2 separate regions of the Homo sapiens genome follow, and region 2 is linked to region 1. A link means that fine-mapping ties the variant in region 1 to the expression of a gene that starts in the linked region. Tissue or cell type: adrenal gland. Region 1 holds a variant in brackets; the other region holds the start of a gene. All regions are shown on one strand. Distances are from middle to middle.

What was found. PIP is the estimated chance that this variant, and not a neighbour inherited with it, causes the effect.
Region 2: HFM1 starts here. The variant in region 1 is fine-mapped to the expression of HFM1 in adrenal gland (GTEx, PIP above 0.99). The same link has a PIP of 0.9 or more in lung, thyroid and visceral fat.

What each region holds. Positions count from the first base shown.
Region 1 is chr1:91,223,159-91,231,344 of GRCh38, reverse strand. No RefSeq gene overlaps it. Among named protein-coding and RNA genes, the nearest start is that of HFM1, 180 kb to the left of the region's middle. The variant G/A (reference allele first, on the strand shown) is at 3,972.
Region 2 is chr1:91,400,444-91,408,629 of GRCh38, reverse strand. It overlaps HFM1 (helicase for meiosis 1), which reads left to right and starts at 3,793. Exons shown (of 39, transcript NM_001017975.6): 1 at 3,793-3,832; 2 at 7,521-7,618. The coding sequence starts at 7,548. RefSeq lists a silencer at 3,819-4,198.

The DNA.
Region 1 (8,186 bases):
CTTGTAAGAGAACCATGTAGACAAGGTATCAGGCCAGTTCTTTAAGTCAACTTTAATTCCTCAAACCCGTCTGGTCATATCTGAAAAGATGTCATTCCAGTCAAAGCCTTGGGAAAATTACCAGTGTCTCCAATATGTCCTGTTACAAAAGAAAACAGATTTTTATTGAACTTATGTAAATTCCCATATTGTTATGAAATAAGAATACTCGCAAATAGTTTCTGAATTCTGGAGGAATCAGGTAGAGAGAAAGGCAAATATTTCCATTTTTGTTCACAAAAGTATACTTTGCTGGGCATTGTGGCTCATGCCCATAAACCCAGCACTTTGGTAGGCTGAAGCAGATGGATCACTTGAAGCCAGGAGTTTGAAATTAGCCTGGCCAACATGGCAAAACCCCATCTCTACTAAAAATATAAAATTAGCTGGGTGTGGTGGCACACACATGTAATCCCAGCTACTACGGAGGGTGAGGCATGAGAATCACTTGAACCCAGGAGCCAGGAGGTGGAGATTGCAGTGAGCTGAGATCGCACCACTGCACTCTAGCCTGAGTGACAGTGTGAGACCCTGTCTTAAAAAAAAAAAAAAGTGTACTTTGCCCAAATTGCTATAAGCTATAAATAGCTCAAACGAAAAAAAGTTTGTGGAAAACAAAACACATTACTACTTCAGGTGGAGCCCTTTAATGATAGGGCAAAGAAAATATTTGCAGTTTCCAGGGCCAAATATTTTAATATGTAAAAAGCAGGCACAATTGGAGGGCAACACATCTAAATCTTTAAAAATCAAGGATCCTTTTATATTGAATCCTGGCTCCCCAAAAAAGAAGGAAACACCATGACACCAGGCCATGACACAGGCTTCCACAGTGTACCTCACTACAAAGACATTCTCCTGGCTGGCAGGTAACCCAATGTCAATCAGCCCACTCTGTGAACAGCCCATCCCCCATAAGAGTTTTATCCCTCAGTGGTGAGTTCATACCTGCACTTTTATTTAAATGCACAAGGACTTTTTTTTTTTTTTTTTTTTTTTGAGATGGAGTCTTGCTCTGTCACCCAGGCTGGAGTGCACTGCGTGATCTCAGCTCACTACAACCTCTGCCTCCGAGGTTCAACTGATTTTCCTGCCTCAGCCTACTGAGTAGCTGGGACTACAGGCATGCACCACCATGCCTGGCTAATTTTTTTGTATTTTTAGTAGAGACAGGGTTTCACCATGTTGGTCAGACTGGTCTTGAACTCCTGACCTCGAATGATCCACCTGCCTCAGCCTCCCAAAGTGCTGGGATTACAAGTGTGAGCCATTGCACCTGGGCTCCAAGGATTTTTATAGGTTTCAGTTTTACATTGAAGTCTTTAATCCATCTTGAGTTAATTTTTATATAAGGTGTAAGGAAGGGGTCTGGTTTCCATTTTCTGCATATGGCTAACCAGTTTTCCCATCACCATTTATTAAATAGGGAATCCTTTCCCCATTGCTTGTTTTTGTCAGGTTTGATAAGGATCAGATGGTTGCAGAGGTGTGGTCTTATTTCTGAGATCTCTATTCTGTTCCACTGGTCTGTGTGTCTGTTTTTGTACCAGTACCATGCGGTGTTTTGGTTATTGTAGACTTGTAGTATAGTTTGAAGTCAGGCAGCATTATACCTCCAGCTTTGTTCTTTTTGCTTAGAATTGTCTTGGCTATATGGTCTCTTTTTTGGTTCCATATGAATTTTAAATTAGTTTTTTCTAAATCTGCGAACAATGTCAATAGTTGTTTAATGGAAATAGCATTGAATCTATAAGGGCAGACATAGTGGCTCACACCTGTAATCCCAGCACTTTGGGAGGCTGAGGTGGGCGGATCACCTGAGGTCGGGAGTTCAAAACCAGCCTGACCAACATGGTGAAACCCTGTCTCTACTAAAAATACAAAATTAGCTGGGCATGGTGGCACATGCCTGTAATTCCAGCTACTCGGGAGGCTGAGGCAGGAGAATTGCTTGAACCTGGGAGGCAGAGATTGCAGTGAGCCAAGATTGCACCATTACACTCCAGCCTGGGCAACAACAGTGAAATTCCGTCTCAAAAAAAAAAAAACAAAAAAAAAGCATTGAATCTATACATTATTTTGGGCAGTATGGCCATCTAGGCAATACCATTTAGGACATAGGCACTGGCAAAGATTTCATGATGAAAACATCAAAAGCAATTGTAACAAAAGCAAAAATTGACAAATGGAATTGAATTAAACTAAAGAACTCTGCACAGCAAAAGATACTATCATCAGAGTGAACAGACAACCTAGAGAATGGGAGAAAATTTTTGCAATCTATCCATCTGACAAAGATCTAATATCCAGAATCTACCAGGAACTGAAACAAATTTACAAGAAAAATAAAAACCTGATTAAAAAGTGGGCAAAGGACATGAACAGACACTTCTCAAAAGAAGACATACATGTGGCCAACAAACATAAAAAAAGCTCAACATCACTGATCATTAGAGAAATACAAATCAAAACCACAATGAGATACTATCTCATGCCAGTCAGAATGGTGGTTATTAAAAAATCAAGAAGCAACAGATGCTGGTGAGGTTGTGGAGAAATAGGAACGCTTTTACACTGTTGGTGGGAATGTAAATTAGTTCAACCATTGTGGAAGACTGTGGTGATTCCTCAAAGACCTAGAGGCAGAAATACCATTTGACTCAGCAACCCCATTACTGGGTATATACCCAAAGGAATATAAATCATTCTATTATAAAGATACCTGCACACATATGTTCATTGCATCACTATTCACAACAGCAAAGACATGGAATCAACCCAGAGACCTATCAGTGACAGACTGGATAAAGATAATGTGGTAATGTGGTACATATACACCAGGAAATACTATGCCACCATAAAAGGGAATGAGATAATGTCCCTTGCAGGGACATGGATGGAGCTGGAAGCCATTATCCTCAGCAAATTAACACACGAACAGAAAACCAAACACCGCATGTTCTCGTTGATAATTGGGGCTGAACAATGAGAGCACATGGACACACTGTGGTCTGTTGGGAGTGGGTGAAGGGAGGGAGAGCATCAGGATAAATACCTAATGCACACGGGGCTTAATATGTAGGTGATTGCTTGATGGGTGCAGCAAACTAAAACCGCCTTTGCAAAAGTATAACTGAGGAAATCATGACAGTGAAAGAAATCAGACCTAACTAACTCCATCTTGCTTCTAACCTTTAAGCTGTCCTTGTTCATTCCTTGGCATAGGCCAAACTAACTTTGAGAAGGAATTCAGCTCATGGTTTGACTCTGAAACAAAATTAATAACAGCTCTTTCCTGAAAAACACCCCTTCTTGCCTAGAAACCAGTCTGCCTTTGCAGAACTAGCAAATTAGCTACAAGATTAGAAATTACAGTTTAGGGGTCGTGCAGCCTCTGGCTCCAAGAGTCTGAACCTCCCCAAATTGCTCCTGGGGATAACATCACTATTGCAAAACCTAAACTCAGTGCTTGAGATATTTTACAGACCCTGTACTTGATGGATCAGCTGATACCACACAGACTGGTGATCTGGCTCAACCAGTTATGCCATCTCACCCAGGAACAGAAGACAGCAAGAAAAACTCACTTGGAACCCTTATGATTCCATCTCCAACCTGACCAATCAGCACTCCCCACTTCCCAAGCCCCTACCCACCAAATCTCTGATCCCTGAATGCTCAGGTAGAGTGATTTGATTAATAATAAAACTGTGGGGCCAGGCGCGTGGCTCACGTCTGTAATCCCAGCATTTTGGGGGGCCAAGAAGGGTGAATCACCTGAGATCAGAAGTTCGAGACCAGCCTGGCCAACATGATGAAACCTCATCTCTACTAAAAATATAAAAAATGTTAGCCAGGAGTGGTGGTGCACGCCTGTAATCCCAGCTACTCTTGGGAGGCTGAGGCAGGAGAATTGCTTGAACCCGGGAGGC[G/A]GAGGTTGCAGTGAGCCGAGATCGCCCCATTGCACTCCAGCCTGGGCTACAAGAGTGAAACTCCGTCTCAAAAAAACAAAAACAAAAAACAAAAATCAAACCAAGCCAAAAAAATACTCCAGTCTCCCGCTCAGCGAGCTCTGCGTGAATTACTCTTTCTCCATTGCAATTCCCCTGTCTTGGTAAATTGGTTCAGTCTAGGCAGAGGGCAAGGTGAACCACTTGGGCGGTTACATAACCACTATGGCACACATTTACCTTTGTAACAAACCTGCACATCCTGCACATATATCCCGGAATTTAAAATTAAAATTTAAAAAAGACTAAATAATAAATGCACAAGGAAATGAGTATTCCCTTGTGGTAACTACCATTCATTGCAACTGTAACTGCCTAATGGGTTCACATTGGGCTGGCTGCCTAGAAAGAACCAGTTTATTAAGTCTGGGGAATTGTAATGGTGAAAGAGTAATTGACACAGAGCCGGGTGTGCGGGGTGACCGGAGTCTTATTATTACTCAAATCAGTCCCCTGGAACATTCGGAGATCAGAGTTTTTAAGGGTAATTTGGAGGGTATGAGCTTAGAAAGTGGGGAGTGCTGATTGGTCGGTTGAAGATAAAATCACGGGGGGTAGAAGTGAGTCCTTGATGACTTCCATTCCCGGGTGGGATCACAAAATTGGTTGAGCCAGATAATCAGTCTGGATGATGTCATCTGCTGCATCAGAATGTAGGGCCTGCAAAATATCTCAAGCACTGATCTTAGGTTTTACAACAGTGATGTTATTCCCAGGAGCAATTTGGGGAGGTTCAGACTCTTGCAGCCAGAGGCTGCATGGCCCCTAAACTGTGATATCTAATTTTGTAGCAAATTTGTTAGTCTTACAAAGACAGACTGGTCCCCAGGCAAGAAGGGTTTTTTTGGGAAAGAGCTATTAATCCATTTTGTTTCAGAGTTTAAACTATAAACTAAATTCCTTCGCAAGGCTAGTTCGGCCTACACCCAGGAATGAACAAAGGCAGTTTAGAGGTTAGAAGGAAGATGGGGTCAGTCAGGTCTGATCTCTTTCATGAAATAATTTCCTCAATTATGATTTTTGCAAAGACGATTTCACATCCATAGTCAGCCACCTCCCAGACTGTAGCTCTCACCAGTGATCCACCAGTCATCATACATACCAAAGCGTATTGTCTCATAGTCTCACCAGTAATCCCTGGTACCCCTAAAAATGAAAGAGATCGGGTAATTGATGTAAAAGACAGTAGAGTTTAGACTTGAGAGGAACGTGTCCATGACTCTTCAGATTCCACAGGAAGGCAGAATACCTTAAAAAGGGGATGAGTGGTGACTCTTTCTGTGTCCCTTAAGGGGTCTGAGTCATTAGAGGTTCGCTCAGATTTGTTTTCTTTTCTTTTTTTTTTTTTAGATGGAGTTTTGCTCTTGTTGCTCAGGCTGGAGTGCAATGGCTCAATCTCAGCTCACTGCAACCTCTGCCTCCTGAGTTCAAGTGATTCTCCTGCCTCAGCCTTTCGAGTAGCCGGGATTACAAGTGCACGCCACCATGCCCAGCTAATTTTTGTATTTTTAGTAGAGATGGGGTTTCATCATGTTGGTCAGGCTGGTCTTGAACTTCTGACCTCAAGTGATCCACCCGCCTCAGCCTCCCAAAGTGCTGGGATTACAGGTGTGAGCCACCATGCCAGGCCTAGATTTCTTCATGTAGCACTGAAGACAGCAAAGAGGAAGGAGGATCTTGAATATCAGCTTTTAACTAAGCTGACCTCTGACCATAGAATAGCTTTTTAAAAATCCTTTTAAATATCTTATTATCAGATTTTAGCCAGGATAAACAGCTGAAATTCCTGGGTTTTGAACTTTTTTTTTTTTTTAACCGAAGGTACCCTCCCAAGTGACTCACTAAACCAATAAGCCTTAAATAAGGTTATACCTTCACCAAGGACACATGAGGCATCTCCAAAGAGGTGCAAAGCAGTCTTTATAAAATCCAGAACCACCCCAGAAATGGTTCAAAGAAAGGAAGGTTTTGCTAGCCACAAAAGGGGGACAGCCCACATTGATCTGGCCATATCTTTCAGGGTCTCAGCTTCTCAGTTGACCATTGATACACAAGGCCCAAAACCTCTGTTTGACCCCACAGATGGAAGAAGACAGGAAATCAAAAGTTGTTCATAGAAGGCGAAGGGATCGATAACAAATGGGTGTTCCAAAAGGTCAAAAGTCACATAAATATCAAACCAAAGGAACTGATTTCCTGACTGGGAATTGAACCAGGCCATGGCAGTGAAAGCACAGAATTTTAACTACCAGACTACACGGTGGAACAGCTCCAAAGCAGGCTGTTTGAAATTATGAAGGGCTTTAGCTTTGTTTTAGGTCAGATTCTGGCTCTTCAATTTTGCCGAATTTCTGAGGCTGGCCACAACACTATTATTTATCTTTAAAAAAAAACATTTTTTGATCTCCCATAAATACAAATAAGGCAATTGCTTGGAATGAGAGATATCTTTTTAAAATTTAGGAGTCATTCTAATTTAAAGGATCCATCTTTTGGCCACCAATGATTAGACTTTCCAGTGGTGTACTCAATCCAATAGCAACTCAGTCCAATTATCATAGCAAAAATTATACCAGAGTCCCTACAACCAAGACTAGTCACACAAATCCTTTTCTCTCATTAATCAACATTTTGCAGAGGAAACAGAAGCAAACAGTGATTTTGGATGGTAACGTCCACTCAATCTATTAACAATGGAGGGTGTCCAGTTTCTTGGTGTCTTGAACAAAGAATTGGACAAAATGCACAAACAAAGCAAGGTGGGAATGAAAGGATTTATTGAAAATGAAAGTATACTCCACAGTGTGGGAGCAGGCCTGAGCATAGGGGCTCAAAGACCCCATTACAGAGATTTGGGGGATGTAAATACCCCCTAGAGGATTCCATTGGTTACTTGGGGTATGGCTTATGTAAATGGAGAGGATGAAGTAAAGTTATAAAGTCATTTACTTGGCCTACGTCCTATGGAGAGGATATTTCCTGTCATAGCTAAAGTGTGAATCGGCCTTATGTTCCCGGCCTCCAGACCCCATTTTTCTTGCCTCATCTTCCCCCTGAGAGATATGATCCCTGTAAATATTTATGGGAGGCAGAGGGACCAACGGTCTTTTTTTCTGTAACTGCTTCATGCTGGCTTGGGGCATAGTCCCTAAGTATTGTGGATCATGGATCTCTTGCCTTGCTCAGTCTGGTGGAGGCAGGGTAGGTGCTCCCTGACAGTCAGGGGTGGTGTCTTCACCTTGAACTGGCTGGAACCTTTGTTGCATGATCATCTGAAGCTTGATGGTCTCTAGGTGAGAAGAAATGAATTTGGTTAAAAAATTTAATGGGAACTTCACGGAGTGGATACCTATGCTGTCAGAAATGTTTGTTATAGAGATTTGCAGGAGAAAAAACAAAGCTTCATCTGTTCTAGAATCTATGTGTTTCTTTAACGTCTTAGCATGAGCAACTCCATTTTGGTTTGGCTTGGTTTGTTGGGGCCTAGTGCATGAGCTTAGCCCAAAACAATAGACTCCCATAATTTTGTTTAAAAAAATTTCCCCTTTTTTGTCATGCTCTCACTTAGGTGAGAGTGTAATCAAAACTTAGGGCCTTAGCACCACTCTCAGTTACCAACATTTTGAGTTTCCGGTCTCAGCACGTCATTTATAGGTGTCCTCATGGTTGCACATTTCTTTCAGCTCCTGTTATTCCAGTTGAAGAGAGACCATATGACATTCTAGAGATGGCTGCATGCAAGCATTTAAAACCTTTGAGAGAATACAGTGCACCAGGAAGACTATTATTATGACTATTGGGAGGATAATACCAAGAGTTTGGGATATGCTCCTTACCCAAGGTCCCCATAAATTGAACCTCCTAAAATCAAATTGATCAAAGAATGAGCTAGATAAAGTTTACTCACTTAACTAAGTAATTTCTTTGTCTATCCCTTACCACTGAATTTCTATAATCTTCATTTGATGTATTTCTGAATAGGCCACAAGTGCCAGCAGCTACACAGGTACTTTTCTGTTTAGCTAATTCTATTGTTTAGCATAACTTTCACAAGACAATTTAAAGTCTGTTGTGTAACTGTACCCTTTACAGTAGAATTTGCTGTACAGCGTATCATGCAGGATACATTTCTAATAA
Region 2 (8,186 bases), 180 kb before region 1:
GAAAGAGAAAGAAAGAGGGAAAGAAAGGAAGGAAGGGGAAAAAAGAAGGGAGGGAGGGAGGGAAGGAAGGAAGGGGAGGAAGGGAGGAAGAGAGAAAAGAGAAAGAAAGAAAGAAAAGAGAAACAAAGAAAAAGAAAGAAAGAACAGAAAGATTTTTTTTTTTTGGTTTGTGCTTAATTCAGTCTTCCTTTTGTTATTTAAGTATCTACTGAATTGGCCCTAACTCCCTAAACTTTTCTTTCCTCCTGAGAATCCCATCATATCAAACTACCTTTATTTCCTTTTTTTCTGTTTTTTTCTCAGAAATTAATTTTGTAATTCTCAGATTCTTCCCAAATGATCTCTTCACTGTTTCTTGTCCAAATCTGACAATAAAAAACACAACACATTTCTGGCTGTCATCTGCAGAAAAATAGTCTTGAAACCTCAACATTTCTTGGTTCCTGCTTCTCTAGAGCCATCAACACTAATTTTTCTTTTTTCTTTCTTGCTTTTTTAGATACAGGATCTTGCTCTATTGCCCAGGTTGGAGTGCAGTAGTGGGATCACAGCTCACTGCAGCCTGGAATTCCTTGGTTCAAGCCATTCTCCTGCCTCAGCCTGCCAAGCAGCTAGGACTACAGGCACACACCACCACACCTGGTTAGTTTTTAAAATTTTGGTAGAGATGAAGTCTCGCTGTGTTGCCCAGCCTGAGACTAATTTTTCAATATCAATTTCTACTGACTAATCAGGGTGTAAAAGATGTGGATGTTACAAAGTGAAGAAAATTTTGGTTATGTTGGATACATCAGCTAGAACTCATGGCATTGGCTGTAATAGCATTACCATATGTCCCAGCAATTCCACTCCTAGGTACATATCCAAAGGAATTGAAAGCAGGGACTTGAACGGAGATATTTACACACGAATGTTCATAGAAGCATTATTCACAATAGCCAAAAGGTGGAAATGTGGAAACAACTCAAATGTCCCTTAGCCAGGATTACAAATGGATAAACAAAATGTGGTATATAAATACAATAGAATATTATTGAGCCTTAAAAAGGAGTAAAATTCTGATCCATGCTACAACATGGATGAACATTGAAAACATTATGCTAAGTGAATAATCCAGAAATAGAAGAACAAATATTGTATGATCCCACTTATATGAAGTACTTAGGATAGGTAAACTCATAGAAATAGAAAGTAGAATAGAGGTTACCAGGAATTAGGGAAAGGGGAAAAGAAGGAGTTCCTGTTTAATGGGCAGAAATTTCTTTTTTTTTTTCTTATACTTTAAGTTTTGGGGTACATGTGCACAACGTGCAGGTTTGTTACATAGATATACATGTGCCATGTCGGTTTGCTGCACCCATCAACTCGTCATTTACATTAAGTATTTCTCCCAATGCTATCCTTCCCCCAGCCCCTCACCCCCCAACGGGCCCCAGTGTGTGAAGTTCCCCTCCCTGAATGGGCACAAATTTCTTGTTGGGGATAATGAAAAAGTTTTGGGTATGGATAAGAGTGATGGTTATACAACACTATGAGTGTATTTAATGTCCCTGAATTATACACTTATATATGGTTAAAATTATAAATATTACGCATGTTTTACCACAATGAAAGAAAGAAAGCGCGCCTTCTAGTGGGAGCTGGGTGCAGAGAGAGCTCTGTATTCTTGGCTGCAGCTGTCTAGAATGGAGCCTGTCTTGCTAAGCTGGAACTTGGGAGTCTTGGATAAAATACCACAGAGCCTTGCCTTTCTTACCAAATTTTTGTATCTCTTTCTTGAAAAGATGTTTCTTCTTTTGCTGTTTGCCCTTAGGATCATTTCCAGAGGGTCTGAGTCATTTTTCTAGAATTTTCACCAGTTTCACTGAGAAGTGAGGTAGCAAAGCTCTTTATGCAGTCATGCCAGAAGTTGACCGGGAAGACTATATTTCAAATGTTAGTTATGTTATTCAATTTGGAGGATTGCTTATGACATTGTTGCACTGGTTGTAAAATTAAATCTTTAGGATTAAAATGTTTTCTTGAGAAATGTGGCAACATTACTAAAAACCATGGTAATCCCTCCCCCCAAAATGGGATTTTTAGTAACTTTATCACTGTCCTGAGGCTTCCTTTTAAAAACTGCAGCTTTGACATTTTTATTACATTATTTTAAGAGAAAGTAAGGCTCTATAGATTCCACATGCATTCTTGAATAAATGAGTGAGTGAATGAATGAATGTTTTTGTTTATGAACATGGTGGCCATTTGCTACTGTGTGCTTTGACAGTAAGACTCCCCTGTACCTGCCTGTTGCTGAATTCTACAATTCTATCACTCAAACCCTATCTTAGTTCAAGCTGCTATAACAAATTACCATAGGCTGGGTGGCTTAAACAACAAACATTTGTCACAATTTTGGTGCCTGAGAAGTCCAAGATCACAGTGCAGGCAGATCCGGTATTTGGCGAGGGCCTCCTTCCTGGCTTGCAGATACCGTCCTCCTGTATCCTCACATGGTAGGAAAAGAGCGAGCTAACTCTCTGGCCTCTTAAAAGGGCACAATCCTACTCATGAAGGCTCTACCCTTTTGAGTTAATTACCTCACAAAAGTCCCACGTTCAAATATCATCACATCGGGGGTTAGAATTCAATGTATGAATTTCAACACATTGAGGGGTTCACTATAACAAATGCACTGTTTCGTTATTTTCCTCTATGCAGTCTATGGAAAGTAACTTTCCTCTCCAGTATTTTTGAGAGGAATGATAATTCAACCTTTCTATTAAGAATAGTTTATGCAGTCAAAATGTTATTTTCTCCAAGAGACAAAGACTTGTTATTTTATCAGTATCCAAATAACTGGCTCACCCAATTACTGGAATAATTTTACATTTCAGAGAAGGTGAAAGAAATTAATATTCATGAGCATTTACTGTGTGGTAGGACTACTGCAAATATTATTTTATTTAACCCTTGCAGCAGTATCTAGGAGTTAGAGCTTATGAGTATCACTGAGGATGCAGAATTAAGACTTAAAGGTTGGGTCTTTTCCAAGGTCATATAGCTAATGAACAGTAGAACTGCAAGAAAAAAGAGAACAGGAATAGGGCAGTCAGACAGCAGTAGGTTGGCCCTAGATGTCACAGGTGGGGGTTTCCAAAGGAAAGATAAATGTCTCTGTAAGAAAAGCATCATTGATTCGTTGCTATTTTATCATCTACAAAACATTCCCTGCCAAATCTTCAGAGGACAATTCTAAAGAAACTTAAAAGGATAATTTATAGTTTGTTCATGTTTACAGCCTAAGAACACATTATTGCCCTGTTTTTATAAATTCATGTTGGCTAAACACATTTAAATATCATTGTGTTTTAGAATATTTATTTCTGAAATTTAACTTTATTTCTGAATCAAGTTCCCCAGTAATACCGACCTCATGAGTGCCACTGTGATATTTTATAAATAATATAGGTAAAACACTTTTTAGGTACGAAGAGACCGGAAGTCCCAGAGCTGAGGCCTGGCTAACTTTGATGAGAAAGGCAGGTTGGGGTATGTTTGTGGAGTGGTGGTTGTGGGGGTAGAGAAGCAGGTTAGCTTAGGGAAAGGGTACCATTTAGTAGACCCTTAGAACCCAGGATTAGGAGCTGTATTTAAAGAGAATAGACACAGTAAACTGCAAGAGATATATTCAAAACCAGTTATAAACTTTCGGAGAAAAAAAGGTAGGAAGGGAGAGGTTGGGGGCTTGGGCGATCCATTGCTTGGAGCTCGGCTTAGCCAGGCTTGGCGGTCCTCAGAGGGGCTGATAAATCGGCGCTCGACTGGCCTAGGAGCTGTCCGCAGGGAGGTGAGGAGAGGGGCCCGGACGCCCGCGGGGAAGGTGGGGACGGGGGCCCGACGCCCGCGGGGAAGTGGGGACCCAGCCGAGCCGTCCGGGCAGCGGTCGATCTCTAGAGCCGTCTGCCGGGCAGGCAGCGGACGGGCGCGGCGAGTTGTTGGTCACCAGGCGTCTCCAGGCCGCCGGCCCGCGCCAGCGCCTCAGCCGCATTTCCAGTCAGAAAGCGGTGAGGCCTGCGGCGCGCTCGGGCGCAGGGCGGGCCCAGCTCCCCGCGAGGTGGGACCGGCTGGGCGTCCGGCCCGCCCCTAAAGTCGGCTGATTGGTGTTCGGTTCCTGTGTCTTGTGTTCCGGTGTGTGGCGCCCCCTGAGCGAGCGCTGGGGGGGACGTACCCATCTGTCTGAGCCGCGGGTTTCACAGCGGTGGGAGGAAACGGGACCCGGGGGGTGGAGTGACGCGCCCCAGCGCCCCGTTCTTGTGCCACTCTCGGGGCCCTAAGGCCTCTGCCTTGGATTTAGGATATTCTCCTTAGGAAATCCACAGAGCTGTTATTTTGCTTTAGGTGCTGATTCGGTCCCCAGCCGGACCCTTCCAGCCAGCCCTGTTGGTGCCTGGGGAGAGGGGGTGAGATCTGGGGCTCCGACAATTGTATGGTCCTTTCCCAGGCCGAGCCTCGGAGTAATTTGTTCCCGTTGATTTTTCCTTCTTTGTCAGATTCTCTGCAGTTATTTGTGACGGTCGGTTATTCCCGTAAATGTTGGTCCCTACTTCTTCCTTAACTCACAAAAATTTCTAGCAAATCAATAATTTTTATCTGAGTTTCTGTACTTTTAAAATAAGGAGTATGTTTCTGAGTAAAAATTGTAAGAAGTAATAGGCCTGCAATTTTATACAATAAGTTTATACAATAATTGTATACAATAATTTTATACAATAAGTAAAGATTACAGAAGACAAAATGGTGAATTGTCATTAATATAACTAAAGATTAATTGTATCTAGTTGTATTAATATTTAACTAGAGATTGTCATTAATATAACTAGAGAAGGTCGGCACCGCAAATTATGTAGACTCAAAAATAGCTTAAGTATTTTAACAGTGATTATAGCAGAGCAGACACTTAAAACTACCTGGGATGATATTGTTTATTGTGTTTGGCAATCTAATTTTGTGCCACGTGCTGAAACTAAAACTTTAATAATAAATAATAGGAACTTAAAAAATCTGAATCTAAACCTAGAACTTTAATTAATTTAAAATAGCATCCCCTCACATCACAAACTCATACTGAACTGTAGCAAGGTCCCTTTTAGGACCTGTGTTTCTTTTTTAAAAAAAGATTTACATAATGAAAGTGCCAAATTCATCATCTTTTAGAACCTTCATGATTTTATTTACATAAATCCTGAACTAGAAAAAAATTTCACATTTTTTAACTGAACGTTGAAGATTGGGGCTCAAATTTTAAGTTTCTAAATTAACAGAAAATTATTTTTATTTGACACTATTTTTATAAACTGGTTCTTGCTAATGCATTTATTCCACAATGCATTCTTATGGACCATTTACTGTGTGCCAGGCACTATTCTGGGTTATTGGAACACATTAATGAGCAAAAAGTCCCTGCTTGCTCTAAAGGGAGAAACATAATAAACAACTAAGCATATACTATAATGTTAGTTATCAGTTCATGCTATGAAGAAAAATAATGCGGAATGAGAGGATGCAGTTTTAGATAAGGGGTGTTTTTTCACAGGAGTATATAAGAACTAAAATATGTACATGATATTTTTATTCTGAACCCAAACAAGTTATATTCTTGTATGCTAGAACTAGAAATCAAAAATTCTTTTGAAAATATTTGCTGTTTGTATAGGAGGTTTTTGTCAGTTTATGCAACGCTTTTCTTCCCAAATGTTTTAAATTTGTAGTTTTGTTGTCTATTTGTAGTTGCTTTAGGAAGAAAGTATTCAAGTGTATAAATGTTAGCCTTAAGATTTTTGACTTAAATTCTGAGGTAGCAAAGCCATATGAAACTGGTCTGGTGAGGTTTATTTTAGGAAAAGTTTCTTTTGTTTGAACATAGTTTTCCTAAAACTAGAAAGGGAACATTTTATTTGTTACTTTTTGGGCAATATAAAAACATGATTAACATTTTCATTTATACTTTTTCAGATAATTGTTTTCAAGTTCTGAAATTGTTTACTTAAAGCTGTTAAAGACTTCGCATATTTCTGAATGACTCCCTCTACCTCCTGCCCTATTATCCTAGGCTTCTATTTTTCGTATAGTCAAATTGTTTTAGACATTTATAGAACCACACTAGTTTGTTTCATTTTTACTACTTGTTTTTGTTGGTAACTGATTAATAGATAGAGAAAAATGAAGAGGGCAATTATATTAAACAGATGGAAGGGGGAAGAACCCAATAACGAAAACAGTGAAAAACCCCACAATATTCTATATCAGTAAGAACAGCCCTGAAGTATATATACAGGTTTAGTTCTCATACAGTAGCATTTGTCAAGTGTTGTATGTGGAAACATTCTCCCTTCCCCATATCACTCCCACTTGTATCTCATCCCCACATCAAGGAGGATTCAAAATTGGAGAGACATAATCTGACTTGGTAATGCGTATTTCTCCACTAGATGGCATTAATAGAATTTCTTTGATTGTAGTTTCTATCTTGAGGACAAATTTACAATGTATTAACTAAAACAGAAGAAACAGAAATGTGATTTATGTTTTACAGTTTGTTCGTCTGATTTTATGGTTTGTCATATAGAATGTTCTATGATGTTTAAGAATTTAGAAAAAAATAGGATATGCAGGGAAAAATAATTCTAATGGGAGCAATGTATGTATCTAGAGACTAGTTTTTTTTTTTAATCACATTTGCATCTTTGTTCAGCCCCAGATTTTTGTTATGTTCAAAGGTGGCCAATGCTGAATGTTTTTATCCTTTATGTTTAGATAATATCTCTGAGTGCAAAAATTATCTTTTAAAAAAGAATGTAAACGTGTGTAGTATATGCATTAACTCATATAAATAAATATGCATATGTATGTTAAACTTGTAATTTTTTTATTTTGAAAAAGTTCAAACCTATGAAAAAATATTATAATGAACCCCATGTACCTATTACATAGCTTTAGCTTTGATCAACTCATTGTCAATATTATTTCAATACTCCTTCATCTCTCCCCTTTATTTTGAAGCAAATCCCTGCATATGTACATAGTATATTGTTAGAGGTGCACACATTCACAATAAAATGTGCTGTCCTAACTTGAAAATAATGGTGTGAACAAAGTATTAAGAGCCCAAGAAGACTGATTAATTCTGCCTTGAGGAAGAAGACAAATTCAGAAAAGCCTTTGAAGAAGAAATGACATTTGACCTATAACTTGAAGGATGGTTAGGAATTTGCCAGTTGGAGAATGGCAGAAAACACATTCCAAGCATTGGAGCACTATGAAGAGAAGGGAGCAAGTGTGAATCCATGAATGAATGGAAAACAGAGAATAATGTATGTGAATATTGAGGTGCTTTGAAGGAAGTTGCAGACGATGAAGCTGGAAGGATAGTCTGTGGTTATATTTTACAGGAGACTGTGGAAAATTAGTGATTATACAGAAATATTTTTTTACATCTTTATAAATAAAATATAAACTACTTTTTCCATATTTTGTAGATTTATGACAAAGTCCAGTTTTCAACAATGCTGAAATCAAATGATTGCCTGTTTTCTTTGGAAAATTTGTTTTTTGAAAAACCAGATGAAGTTGAAAAGTAAGTCTCCCTTAAAGATTGATAGCATAGTATATTACTTTAGGGTTTTTTGAATTTGGGTGAGTTTTAGCTTTCTCTCTGGTAAATATACAAATAAAAATGAGGAATCAACAGAACGATATTTCAGTTACATATTTGGTAAACATGGAATTCTCTTACCAGTAGTATAGGGGAGTAACTGAAGTTTAACATCTTAAATGTTATAATTTTAAAAATAGAATAGATTTGGGCCAGGCGCAGTGGCTCACGCCTGTAATCCCAGCACTTTGGAAGGCTGAGGCGGGTGAATCACCTGAAATCAGGAGTTCAAGACCAGCCTAGCCAACATGGTGAAACCCTGTCTCTACTAAAAGCACAAAAAAATTAGCCAGGCCTGGTGGCGCATGCCTCTAATCCCAGCTACTTGGGAGGCTGAGGCATGAGAATTGCTTGAAGCCCGGAGGCGGAGGTTGCAGTGAGCTAAGGTGGCGCCACTGCACTCCAGCCAGAGCAACAGAGTGAAACTCTATCAAAAGAAAAAAAAAAAAAAAAGATTCTTGCCTATTTGGCTTGCATTTATTTGTATTTC